Linked DNA regions of Homo sapiens: regions 1, 3 and 4 are each reported to be linked to region 2. The links are microRNA targets in miRTarBase. Many come from high-throughput screens and were not tested one by one. Region 2 holds a microRNA gene; each other region holds the end of a gene's coding sequence. Distances are from middle to middle.
Evidence for each region. Region 2 holds the annotated microRNA hsa-miR-4448 (GGCUCCUUGGUCUAGGGGUA, at 2,150-2,169, shown strand). A microRNA usually pairs through its seed, bases 2 to 8, with sites in the 3' UTR of a target mRNA and lowers its output. Matches are read on the target gene's strand: a 7mer-m8 pairs with bases 2 to 8, a 7mer-A1 pairs with bases 2 to 7 and ends in A, and an 8mer does both.

Region 1 (3,120 bases), not on the chromosome of region 2:
ACCCAGGAAATGATTAGCAATTGTTCTACTTCACCACAGTGTTTAGCACAGTGCTTGTGACATTGTTGGTGCTCAATAAATATTTTGAGGGAATGAGTGAGTAAGGATGAGTCAACTTGGGCACTCTAGTAAAGTGAGACGGAAGGACATAAGAACATTCAGATTTTCTAACCCTAAAATCCAAGCCAGTGAGTCAATGAAGACTTCGTGATGACCACATTGCTACGGTTGATTGATGTTAAAGAAAGACTGGCTACTCGCCAAAACATAATATGAGGGTCGTATTTGCACTGGAAAAGGATTCTTGCTAAGCCCTGACCATGCTTTTTTGAGCATCTCTTATGGCACCGACCTGATGGTTTAGAAGTCACGGAAGCTTTATGAAGAGGGAATCTGAGAGAGTGGCCAACTGGTTCAGTCCATTCACACACTGAACCTCCTCAGCAACATTCCCCAAGTAAGGAATTCAGATTGCTGGGATAGTGTTTCCATTTTCTCCTGGGGAATTCTTTTCTTATCAGCTCTAATTACTAGAAAGTTCCTTATGACACTGAACTAGAATCTGCCTTTTTATAAAATGTACCCATAGACAATGAATCTAAGCAGTTCTCCATAGTGGTTTAGAGAACAGCTTCTGGAATCACAGATCTGCCTTGAACCCTAGCTTCTACACATAGGTGCTTTGTGACCCTTAGGCAAAGATTACTAACTCTCTAAAACTAAGTTTTTTCTTTTAGAATTGGGGATAATTACAGTTCCTATTTCATGGAATGGTTTTAAGAAGATCATAAATAAATATATGCAAACTGCTCATCACCATGTATGGCACAAAATGCCCAATAAATAATATCATTACAATTGTTTAGGCCTTTTTCACTAGGTATTTGACAGAAACAGGGCGGCAAGTGGTACAAAACAGCAGTTAATGGATGAGGTGTCTCTTGTCAGTGGGCTGTGTGCCTGAGTACTTTGATTTCAGTGACTCAAGCACCTTCTTTGTTTTGCTCACTAGAAACGAATTAGAAAACTCTTCAAGCAGGGGGAGAGAAATTTCATACCATTAATTTGACAAAAACAAGAAGTTTGTACTTTCACAATTATAGACACTAACTTATAGAATACCTCATTCACCTCTGGGGGGTGCAAGGAAATAGCTCCCTCTGGGGCTTCTCTCAAAACTTGTCTCCCCGAAGCTTCCTAACATTCAAATGGCTGTCAGGCAAAACACAAGTCTTCCCTAGCCATCCTGAAACATTTCTCATGGCTAATGACTACCTATCAGTCTGGAGTTGACTTTATATTATTACTCAAGACATAAATCACAAATCCTAAATGGATTCAGGAATGTATAGTTGAGCACAATGTATATGTATATCTTTACCATATAAATCTGTATTATACACCATATGAAATTCAGTAGACTAGGAGACTTAAGATCTCAGTTTACTCAACTATAAAATGGCTACAATGAATGGTTCTTAGACTATGTTCTAAGGACCTCTAGGTCTGCACAGCAGTGCTGGGAGCTGCTCGACTTGGGCTTTAGGCTTCCATCTTGTTTCGAGTAGAGCAGTAATGTTTTAACAGATACCTCTCTTCTCATCAGCTCCCCTCAAACCATCCCTCTGGGAAGGGCAACCTAAGCAGGACAAACCATGCCTTTCACTTTAGAAAAACACGAGCTGCTGAAAGAAGTCTGCTGAAACAATATCACAAAGAGTGCGCCTACTTGGCGAAGGCTTGGGTGCAGAGAAGGGGGAAGGGTTTATAGGAGAAGAATAGTGGGGTTATAGAGGGGCCATGTTTGACCGAAGAGGTGCCTTCTGAATCTCTGTGGAATGCACAGCTGTGGAGCCAGCTGCATCAACACAATCACAGTGTCCTGCGTGATGGGCTGTGACCTCCCTCCGTGGAGACAGCAGGGTATGGGGGAAGGGGGACTGCTCATGGAATCAGAAGACTTAGGAGTGAGTCTCGGTGCTGGGACAGAGAGCTTCCTCTCTCTGAACTGCTATTTCCCTACTGAAAACCAAGAATAAACATACCCACCAGATCAGCTTCACGGGCATGTTGTATGGTTTAAAGACAATGGGGTCTACAAAGCATTTTGTAAATTAGAAAGCTCCACAAAGATACCAGCTGTATTCATCAGCCCATGAGATGTCTAAATGTGATCCTTAAATTCCAAAAAGCTTGCTAAGTTCACTTTCCTAATATATGAATATAAAACATTAGTGAATTATCAAATAAATGAGGTGTTTCATTATGTTCATATACTTTTTCAATATGTCAATTATAAAAACCATTGTATCTGAGACCCTATGAAGAACTACATATGAAATTACAAAGAAAGATCTAATTATATATGAAAAAGTATATATATTATAAAGTCTAATTATATGTGATTTCAAAAAATATAACTAGATTATTCTTAAGGAACTACTGTAGTGGCAATTGATTTTTTAAATGTATACAGAAATATCAAAAGTTTTACAAAAATACCCAAAGTCCAGAGTCTCCATTTCACACTTCAACAAGTAGTGCATGCTTTACTCCTATTTTAGACTGTTTCATCTCAGAATTGGATGTTATGCGTCTCTGCTCACATCATCCATGTAGCTCCACTTCCTAAGGAAAACCATCAACTTTTCTGGTTGGGGAGTTCTCTAGAGCAATCCTCTTCATTCTCCTCTGAGCGAGATAGATTCAGGACACTCATCACGGGATGGATCCAGGATGTAGTCTGTGTTACATGACTTGAGAAGAACAAGAATGCAATTAGAATCTGAAAGACTGTCCTTCTACTCATCCATGCAAGTACTGATCCTGGTGACATTGCTTCTACCCTAGTAAAGTCCCTGTGATAGGAAGCAGTTAGAACTAGATCCAATAGCTTTAATAAGTCTTAGACACATTTTAAGCTTCAATGAAAACCATTTCTTTCTTTCTTCTTTGGTTAAAAAGGAATGCAGGTGAATGCAGCATCTCTAACTCCTTTCGTTTCAGTATCTGACATTCAGTAAGTCAGCAAGTCCAATGACTGCCTTGCTGTAACATCTCTGGAATCTGTTTCTTGCTCTCCTTTTTCAATGAAATAGTCTGGGTCACTGAAATGGTTTG
Region 2 (3,118 bases):
GCGGCTATTACCTGCGTCCGAGGAGCTGCGGCGGGGTTAGGACCGCAGTGAGCTCCTCGCAGCTGCGGCCGCCCACCGACGCACCCCACGCCTGGCCGCAGCCCCAGCCTCTCTGCGCCCAGCCTCGCCACGCCATCTTCCCAACCTCTGCCCCACCATGGCCCGACCTTACCAACCCCAGCTGCGCAACTACTTCCGGGGCGAAGGCAACACCATAGAGCACGAGGAGCAGTCTAGAGCGCCCCCGCGCGGCTGAGCGGCAGCCGAACCAGCCACGGTGCCCGGACGACTGGCTGGCGCCCTTCTGTCCCACCGCTTCCCCTCCCACTGCTCAGCTGGCTCCGGGAGCGACCTGCGAGAGTGGCCCGGCCTCCCGGCATTTGCAGATGAGGAGGATGGGGCCAGAGCGAAGAGGGACAACTGTCATTTTTTCGAGTAACGGCACATACCAGGCGCTTTGCCTAAGATCGCATTTAATCGTCACAGCACTGCTAGAGGTAGATGTCATCACTGTTTCACTTTGCCTCTGGTCAGAGGGGATAGGACTTGCCCGGAGTTGCAGGGCTGGTCCCTAGAGGAACCAACGTGGCAAGCCAAGTTTTCTTAAATTACTACTTTTTTCTGCATCTCACCACTTCGTGTTATTCTGTATGCCTTTAACAAAGTCCAAGCCTATCGGGCGGGGTGGCTCACCCCTTTAATCCCAGCACTTTGGGAGGCCGAGGCCGGCGGATCACCTGAGGTCAGGAGTTCGATACCAGCCCGGCCAACATGGTGAAACCCCGTCTCTACTAAAAATACAAAAATTAGCCGGGCATGGTGGCAGGGGCCTGTAATCCCAGCTACTCAGTTGGCTGAGGCAGGAGTATTGCTTGAACCTGGGAGGCGGAGGTTGCAGTGAGCCGAGATTGGACCACTGCACTCCAGCCTAGGTGACAGAGCGAGATCCGTCTCAAAAAAATTACAAATACAAATACAAAAATTAGCTGGGCGTGGTGGCGCAAACCTGTAATCCCAGCTACTCGAGAGGCTGAGGTGGGAGAATCACTTGAACTCGGGAGGTTGCAGTGAGCCGATATCGTGCCAGCCTGGGCAACAGAGTGAGACCCTTTCTCATAAATAAATAAGTAAATAAACACAAAATCCAAGCCTGAAATGAAAAGCGGGCTTTCACTTTTTCATAATCCATCCCTCAACTACCTGTCAGTTAGCTTGATTCCCTGCCATTCCATTCCCCCCGACCCTAGCTGCAGCCATACAGTCATTGGCCATTACTCAAAGGCACCATCCGCGTTCCCACTGCTGAGCATTCATGCTACCGTTCTCACCACTTGAAACATCTAACCGACTTGTCCTTCAGGTCAGCCTCAAGTGTCACCTCTTCCAGGAGGCCTTTCCCAGACCTCCACTCCAATTTAGATTCCCTTCCTTTGTACTCACATACCGCTTTATGCTTATCTCTGCAATAGCACTTCATTCATTCCATAAGCTCTTATTAAGCACCTACAGTGTGTCAGGTGATATGTTAAACCTGGGGATACAATTGAGAAGACACTATATCTGACCTCACAAAGATTCTATTGTATTGGGGGAGAAGGCTCTGTAGGAGTCTAGAGAGGGGGGATATAGCCCAATTGAAGGAAGGGGCATGGGAGGCTCAGGGAGAAGGCTTCCCAGAGAAACTGATAGAGGTCACCAAGAGAAGAGGATTGAAGTGTTCCTCAGAAAGAATAGCATTTGTGATGTCTCCCAGCGCACGACTTGTTTGAAAAACTAAAATAAATTCACGCCTTTTCCACACAACCCAGAGAGGGGCCCATACGGCATTGTTCTAGATTCTCTGTGGGCGGCAAGCCATCCAGGTGCCGAGGCAAGAGACCAAGGGCACGAGCTGTTCCAGTATAATAAAATATATAAAACAACAAGAGTTATACTAGATCTAGATCATAGACGTGATTATATATGAATATCATTAATCATCAGTTTGTAGCAATTATTCTTTATTCCAATATTATAATAATCCTCGCTCTATAATCATAACCTAGGAAAAACCGGGCCATACAGAGGCAGGAGCTGAGGGGACATAGTGAGGAGTGACCAAAAGACAAGAGTGCGAGCCTTCTATTATGCCCAGACAGGGCCACCAGAGGGCTCCTTGGTCTAGGGGTAATGCCAGCGTCTGGGAAGATGCCCGTTGCCAAGCAGACTGTGGTCTAGCGGTAGCATGTCAAGGAAAAACACCTGCTACTTAGTAGTCCCTGGGGGAGTTTAGAGAAGACTCTACTCCTCCACCTCTTGTGGAGGGCCTGACATTAGTCAGGCTTTCCCGCAGTTATCCGGAGGCCTAACCGTCTCCCTGTGATGCTGTGCTTCAGTGGTCACGCTCCTAGTCTGCCTTCGTGTTCCATCCTGTACACCTGGCTCTGCCTTCTAGATAGCAGTAGCAAATTAGTGAAAGTACTAAAAGTCTCTCATAATGGTGTAAGTTGTTTCTCTCTTTGTCTCCTCTCTCTCTCTGCCTCGGCTGCCAGGCAGGGAAGGGCCCCCGTCCAGTGGACACGTGACCCACGTGGCCTTACCTATCATTGGAGATGGCTCACTCTCCTTATCCTGCCCCTTTGTCTTGTATCCAATAAATATCAGTGCAGCCTGGCATTTGGGGCCACTACCGGTCTCCGTGTCTTGGTGGTAGTGGTCCCCCGGGCACAGCTGTCTTTTCTTTTATCTCTTTGTCTTGTGTCTTTATTTCTACGCTCTCTCGTCTCTGCATGTGGGGAGAGACCCACCGACCCTGTGGGGCTGGTCCCTACAATTCTCATTGTAACTTAAAGGGAAACTTTCACAATGTCTAGAGCCCTTGATGTCCTGCAAATGAAGGAGGAGGATGTCCTTAAGTTCCTTGCAGCAGGAACCCACTTAGGTGGTACCAACCTTGACTTCCAAATGGAGTAGCACATCTGTAAGAAGAAAAGTGATGGCGTCTACATCCTACATCTGAAGAGGACCTGGGAGAAGCAAGAAGTTTCTGCTGGCAGCTCGTGCCATCGCTGCCTTTAAAAACCCTGTTGATGTCAGTGTCATGTCCTCTAGCAATACTGGCCAGAGGGCTGTGCTGAAG
Region 3 (3,120 bases), not on the chromosome of region 2:
CCGTATGTTCTGAACATGGGATTAAGTAATTACAATCCCTCAGTATTTCATTTCATAAATTGAGTAAATGATAGAATAAATGCCCTATAGCCTTTTAGGGCAGGTGATGTTCATGAACATGCTAACAAAGCTATGAAAAATACAAACATAAATAATACTGAGATCTATTTTTGGTCCTTCAGCTTCTGACCAAAAGATGGTGAAACTCTTCTACATCTGGCACTGTGCATCAAGAGAATTTTACTCCTTGACATCTCCTGCTTCGGCCTCACAAGTAGCTGGGACTACAGGCATGCACCACCACGCACAGCTTATTTTCGTATTTTTAGTAGAGACAGGGCTTCACCATGTTGGCCAGGCTGGTCTCGAACTCCTGACCTCAGGTGATCCGCCCACCTCAGCCTCCCAAAGTGCTGGGATTATAGGCATGAGCCACCACGCCCGGCTGACAGATTTGTTTTCAATATGAGTTTGGCTACTTCAGAACAGGGGCCATGACTATCTGCCATGACAATAGTTACTTTAGTTGAATGATCTCCAGAGTTCTTCAAAGTGAGAAGTCAAGGCTTTGGATGATAATCCTTTTCTAGAGTATAATGTAATTTTTTTTTTTTTTTTTTAAGACGGAGTTTCACTCTTTTGCCCAGGCTGGAGTGAAGTGGCTTGATGTTGGCTCATTGCAACCTCTGACTCCCGCCCCAGGTTCAAGCAATTCTCCTGCCTCAGCTTCCCAAGTAGCTGGGATTATAGGCACCTGCCACCAGGCCAGCTAATTTTTGTATTTTTAGTAGAGACAGGGTTTTGCCATGCTGGCCAGGCTGGTCTCAAACTCCTGACCTCAGGTGATCCACCTCCCTTGGCCTCCCAAAGTGTTAGGATTACAGGCATGAGCCATTGCTCCCGGCTGTATAATGTACTTTTTTTTTGTATTTTTAGTAGAGATGGGGTTTCACCATGTTGCCCAGGCTGGTCTCGTACTCCTGAGCTCAGGCAATTCACCCGCCTCGGCCTCCCAAAGTGCTAGGATTACAGGCATGAGCCACTGCGACTGGCCAGTACTCTTGACCACTATTTTTAATACATGACAAACCCTCTTGCTTCAGATTTTAGGAAATGATTATAAGCTCCAAGAATCATTATTTAGAGAATACTTTATTAGTTTCTGTAATCAAACCCATGTAGATAAGACCTTACATATTTAATACAGTGCGTTACCCCTGTACAAATGGAAAAAAATTAAGTTTAACGTTTCTAGACCAATATGGCTGTTAATTTCTGTACAATGCCAACTCAACACAGTAAACCGGGATACTTTTTCCAAAGTTGACAGCACAGCTAAAGTTTCCAAAAATTCAAATTATATATATATATGTATATATATATATATATTTATATAAAAAGACCAATAGCAGTATGTTATGCATCAATAGCAGCAACAGCTTTTCCAGGTTCTGCAGTCATCTGAATAAAATTATAGAGACATCCAGCACACTCCATTTAAAAAAAAGGGGGGAAAAAGGTAAAAAACAAAACCCCAGAAAATTGCAAAGTTCTGTTACTGTTGTGGTACCTGGCACCGTTTTTTAAAATTAGCTTCTGAATCATCATCTGGAAAGAAAACATTCTAGAATAACATCATTAAAAACAGCTCTGATAAAGCACGGTCACTACTACGTATCATAAAGCAGGTACAAGATATTTTACATTCACAGAGGTATGATACAGTACTGTCCTATATCTATAATACTAGAGGATACAATTAAAAAGGCATTATTTGAGACTTGATTCTACTTTTCCAGCAGAGGGCCCAAAGGATGGCATGACACAGCTCTGTAAAGAAATGCACCTTCTTAGGATTTCCTTTAATTAGTGGCACAGTTCTAGGTACTCACTGTTCTTCATAAACACCAGCTAAAAACTGGTATAAAAAAAAAAAGAAAAAAACCCCCAAATCATGGGATTCATACAAAGATGACTGAGTGGGGGCAAGGAAGACTCAACCTAACCAGCATTTTACCAAATCTGTCATGTTTGAATCGTGAGAGCTCCATGGAAGAAAGGAGATGCTAAGTAGCGCTTCAAAGCTTCAGACCACAACCAAAACACAGCACCATTTCAAATAGAAGCAGTAGCCAAACACTGCTCACTTTGATATGGTTCAAGGATGCTGACATCAATATTTATCTGCTCATTCATCCAGGAAGAAGGGGACATCAGTTACTACTGTACTTTGATTGTGTTCAACTCAATCACCATGTTATAAAAATAGCAAGCTGCCATAATAAAAAATAAGGCTCCTCTATCCAGCACCAGTTATCTTCAGTTCTTTACCTCCAAGCCTACAAATGCCATAACCATATCCGAAGAACATAAGGGAGCAAAAAAACCGCATCTGATGTAGTAGCTGGGACCATCACACTGTTCAGGCTGAGCTATTCCTCTGCTGTGTTATTTTCCTTATATTTTTGGTGTTTCATCTAATCATAAGGATTTTTAGGTCTAAATTATATGCACTCAAAAAAATGGGTGCATACATTTATATATAAATTCTGACTGAAGATGCATGGCCATCAACCAAGCACATGTTATATAGTAGGTACAAGCTTGCAAAGCCTCGTTTTCACTGGTACAGCAGCTGTGTGTCAGTGTAAATTGCTCCTATGTCCCTTGTACATCTCCAAGCTCTGAACAGGATAATGTCACAGGCCATTTTGCCCCTTTGGCTGCCAGCATTATCTGACTTAATTCTCCATGTTTTCCCGCCCCCCTCCCAATCCCCTGCAATAAACCATAGCCTTTAAGATTTTGTTTCTTCGGTTTTGATCGCCTGAGGTTTGATTGGTCCAGTTCTAACAGGTTTGGTGGCTATGGAGGGTGCAGGGGGTGGCTTTTCTTCTACTTTTTCCTGACAGACCCCAGGAGGGTCGGTCAGTGTTTCAGGAGGTTTACTTGAATCACTGTCCACTTTCTGGGCTTTGCCTCCTCCTATCTGTTTGCTCTGTTGCTGTTCAGAGAAGAACCGTTGCGTGGACTGAAGAACCTCTGCTCTCTGCTTTGCCTTAAAAAATGAGAAAGAACAACTGAAAATACTGCAGCATTACCAAAGCCTGTCAAATCAAT
Region 4 (3,120 bases), 130 Mb from region 2:
CATGGCTTCTCCCAGACTGTGGTCCGCCTGGCTCTGGTGGTGATTGTGGCCTCACAGCTGGACAACCTGTTCCCTCCGGAGCCAAAGCCAGAGGAGCCCCCAGCCCGGGGAGGCCTGGCTTCCACCCCACCCAAGGCCTGGTACAAGGACATCCTGCAGCTCATTGGCTTCGCCAACCTGCCCCGGGTGGATGAGTACTGTGAGCGCGTGTGGTGCAGGGGCACCACGGAATGCTCAGGCTGCTTCCGGAGCCGGAGCCGGGGCAAGCAGGCCAGGGGCAAGAGCTGGGCAGGGCTGGAGCTAGGCAAGAAGATGAAGAGCCGGGTGCATGCCGAGCACAATCGGACGCCCCGGGAGGTGGAGGCCACGTAGAAGGGGGCAGAGGAGGGGTGGTCAGGATGGGCTGGGGGGCCCACTAGCAGCCCCCAGCATCTCCCACCCACCCAGCTAGGGCAGAGGGGTCAGGATGTCTGTTTGCCTCTTAGAGACAGGTGTCTCTGCCCCCACACCGCTACTGGGGTCTAATGGAGGGGCTGGGTTCTTGAAGCCTGTTCCCTGCCCTTCTCTGTGCTCTTAGACCCAGCTGGAGCCAGCACCCTCTGGCTGCTGGCAGCCCCAAGGGATCTGCCATTTGTTCTCAGAGATGGCCTGGCTTCCGCAACACATTTCCGGGTGTGCCCAGAGGCAAGAGGGTTGGGTGGTTCTTTCCCAGCCTACAGAACAATGGCCATTCTGAGTGACCCTCAGAGTGGGTGTGTGGGTGCGTCTAGGGGGTATCCCGGTAGGGGGCCTGCAGGGAGCCAGAGGGTGGAAATGGCCTCTAAGCTAGCACCCCGTAAGAAGAGCCTACCTGACCGACTTGGGGAGGGAACACAGAGGTGTTGGGAAGGTGGAGCAACAATGCACCTCCCCTCCTGTCGCGCCGTGATATCTTGGTGGCTCCCTGCCACTGCCCACCGCCTCTTCTCCATCTGAGAATCACGGAGAGGTGTAGATAATCTAGAGGCATAGACTGCTAGAGCCCCCAGGGATCTGGGGTGGTCAGGGCTCAGGCTTCACTTTGTAAACCAGGTGGGGGCATCTCACAGCCTGACTTCCCTTCCCCAGGCCAGGGTTGCTGGGATGCCTGCCCCTCCTGAGAGGACCCCCTCCCCATTGTCAGGCTCTCCATGTCCACGAGCGGGGAGGGGTGGGTTCTGGGGCATTGTTGTCCCTTGTGTCTGTGGACTAGAGATAGGGTGGGGGAGCTGGGGAAGGGTGCAGGCGGGAAGAGTGGGCTGTCTTTCCCAGGGTGATGCAAGCATGCCGCAGCCCTGGAGGCTGGGAATGTGGAGGCTCTGTGAGCCCTGCAGCCCTCAGAATCAGGGCCAGGGATGCAGAAGATTGAGAGGATATGGAGATGGATAGAGGGCAGGAGACCCTTAGGATAGATTGTGGGACCCAGGCAGGAACAGGTGTCCACAAGAACTCAGGATGGCATCAGTTAGCTCAGAAGCCACCTGGAAGACCCAGTGTTTCCATCTCTGGAATCTCTGTTTTATGCTAAATGGATTTAGGAAGACTGTTTTTCTTTTAAGGGGGAAACAAGGTAGAGAAAAGGACGAAGAAGTGTAAGTCCCGCTGATTCTCGGGGGTAAGGCTCGGATGGCAAGGACGCGTTCTGCCTGGGCATGTAGGGGAGGTGTTTTTGCCATCACCAGTTTCTCAGGCTGGGGAGCACAGAGGGGAGGAGGAGGACTAAATGAAAAGTTGTTCCCAGCCTGCACATGAACACATTCATGACACACAAAACTGGCTGGAAGGAGATAAGAGCACTGGGTTTGAGATTCCCTCCATTAAAACAACCAAGACAAAGAAAGGAGGGGAAAAAAAGATAAAAAGCAAGCCAGGGTTCCCTGCCCTATTGAAACTCAAACCCAGACTGCCTTGGGTTTTATCTTTCCCTTACCCCTGGCACCTCCAGAGAACTGGGACCTGAAATAGTCCCTCCGTTCTCCCCTTTGACCATGTAATAAATGAACCAGAAGCACTGAGATTAACCTATCAACGCCCTGAGAAGCCTTCCAGCCTGCGGTGCTGTCTGCTGGGAGGTCAGCTGGTCAAGGCAGAGGAGGAGAGGAGGAAAGGATGGGGGCTGAAGAGCAGAAGGGAGGGGAGACAGAGGGGATTAAAGAGGGGAGGAGAGAGTGCAGAGCTCCAGGAAAGGGTATCAGAGCTGCAGCCAGCTCTGCCCTCTACCCTAGGGAGGCCAGAAAGACACAAACAGCCCTCCGGGCCTTTACGCTGGACTCTGGCTTGGCAGGCTCCAGGCAGGGTCCTCTGGGAAGTTACTCTAGAAAACGAAGGGAGGAGGAGCACAAGATCCTCAGCAACGAACACCTGCACTTAGAAAAAGTGGACAGCTTCTGCCAACCACACCCTACCCATGGTACTGTATGCTATTAACTCCTGGAAACGCCCCGTAAATGCGAGTTGTTTTTGTATTTGTGTGTTGAGATGGGCCTTGTGGTTTCTCTGTACTCAGAGCACATTTCTTGTAATTACTATTGTTATTTTTATTGTCATGACTGCCCCTGAGCTCTGGTGAGAAAAGCTGAATTTACAAGGAAAGGGATGAAGTTAATATTTGCATCACATAATTATATCATTACTGTGTATCTGTGTATTGTACTAAATGGACTGATGCTGCGCACATGAGCTGAAAATGAAGAGCCCTCCCATCCATTCCATGAGAAAGAAGGTCACCCTGAGTGACTTCTGTTTCATGATTTCCCAAACAGGTTTTAGAGCTGGAAAAGGACTTAAAGAAAGAGACTGGGTGGTGCTTTCTAGAAAGGAGGAAGATGGGTATCAGGGGAAGGAAGGAGTTAGAGGGCTTTGTACAAAGCCGAGATTGCTCATTAAATGAGGAACATCCTGGCCTGTGGGCTTGTAAGACTGACCTTCTTGGGACTTCAGGAGGATCTTGAACTAAAAGAAAAAAAAAAAACACTGGCAAAGGGCAGCTGGGCCCGTAGGCAGCTCTGCTCCTTTTTCACAACAACACTTGACATTTGTCACAGTGACACTTGGCATGGTTCCTGCCTTCATCCCAAGCCACATACCAATGGATATTAAGTC

Region 1: the mRNA of STXBP4 is a reported target of hsa-miR-4448. The part of its 3' UTR that is shown has no 7-base or 8-base seed match.
Region 3: miRTarBase lists PRRC2C as a target of hsa-miR-4448. Seed matches in the 3' UTR shown: 7mer-A1 at 2,654-2,660.
Region 4: miRTarBase lists SEMA3G as a target of hsa-miR-4448. Seed matches in the 3' UTR shown: 7mer-A1 at 2,351-2,357.

What each region holds. Positions count from the first base shown.
Region 1 is chr17:55,159,433-55,162,552 of GRCh38, reverse strand. STXBP4 (syntaxin binding protein 4) reads right to left here. Exons shown (of 18, transcript NM_178509.6): 18 at 1-2,756. The coding sequence ends at 2,642. Among named protein-coding and RNA genes, the nearest start is that of HLF, 100 kb to the left of the region's middle.
Region 2 is chr3:183,884,711-183,887,828 of GRCh38, forward strand. It overlaps MIR4448 (microRNA 4448), which reads left to right and starts at 2,090; the gene lies at 2,090-2,175. PARL (presenilin associated rhomboid like) reads right to left here and starts at 170. Exons shown (of 10, transcript NM_018622.7): 1 at 12-170. The coding sequence starts at 136. It also overlaps the pseudogene RPSAP31. RefSeq lists silencers at 1-89, 200-350 and enhancers at 300-349, 390-619.
Region 3 is chr1:171,591,525-171,594,644 of GRCh38, reverse strand. PRRC2C (proline rich coiled-coil 2C) reads right to left here. Exons shown (of 35, transcript NM_001387844.1): 35 at 1,134-3,058. The coding sequence ends at 2,798. Among named protein-coding and RNA genes, the nearest start is that of MYOCOS, 29 kb to the left of the region's middle.
Region 4 is chr3:52,432,855-52,435,974 of GRCh38, reverse strand. SEMA3G (semaphorin 3G) reads left to right here. Exons shown (of 16, transcript NM_020163.3): 16 at 1-2,940. The coding sequence ends at 372. Among named protein-coding and RNA genes, the nearest start is that of SEMA3G, 11 kb to the left of the region's middle.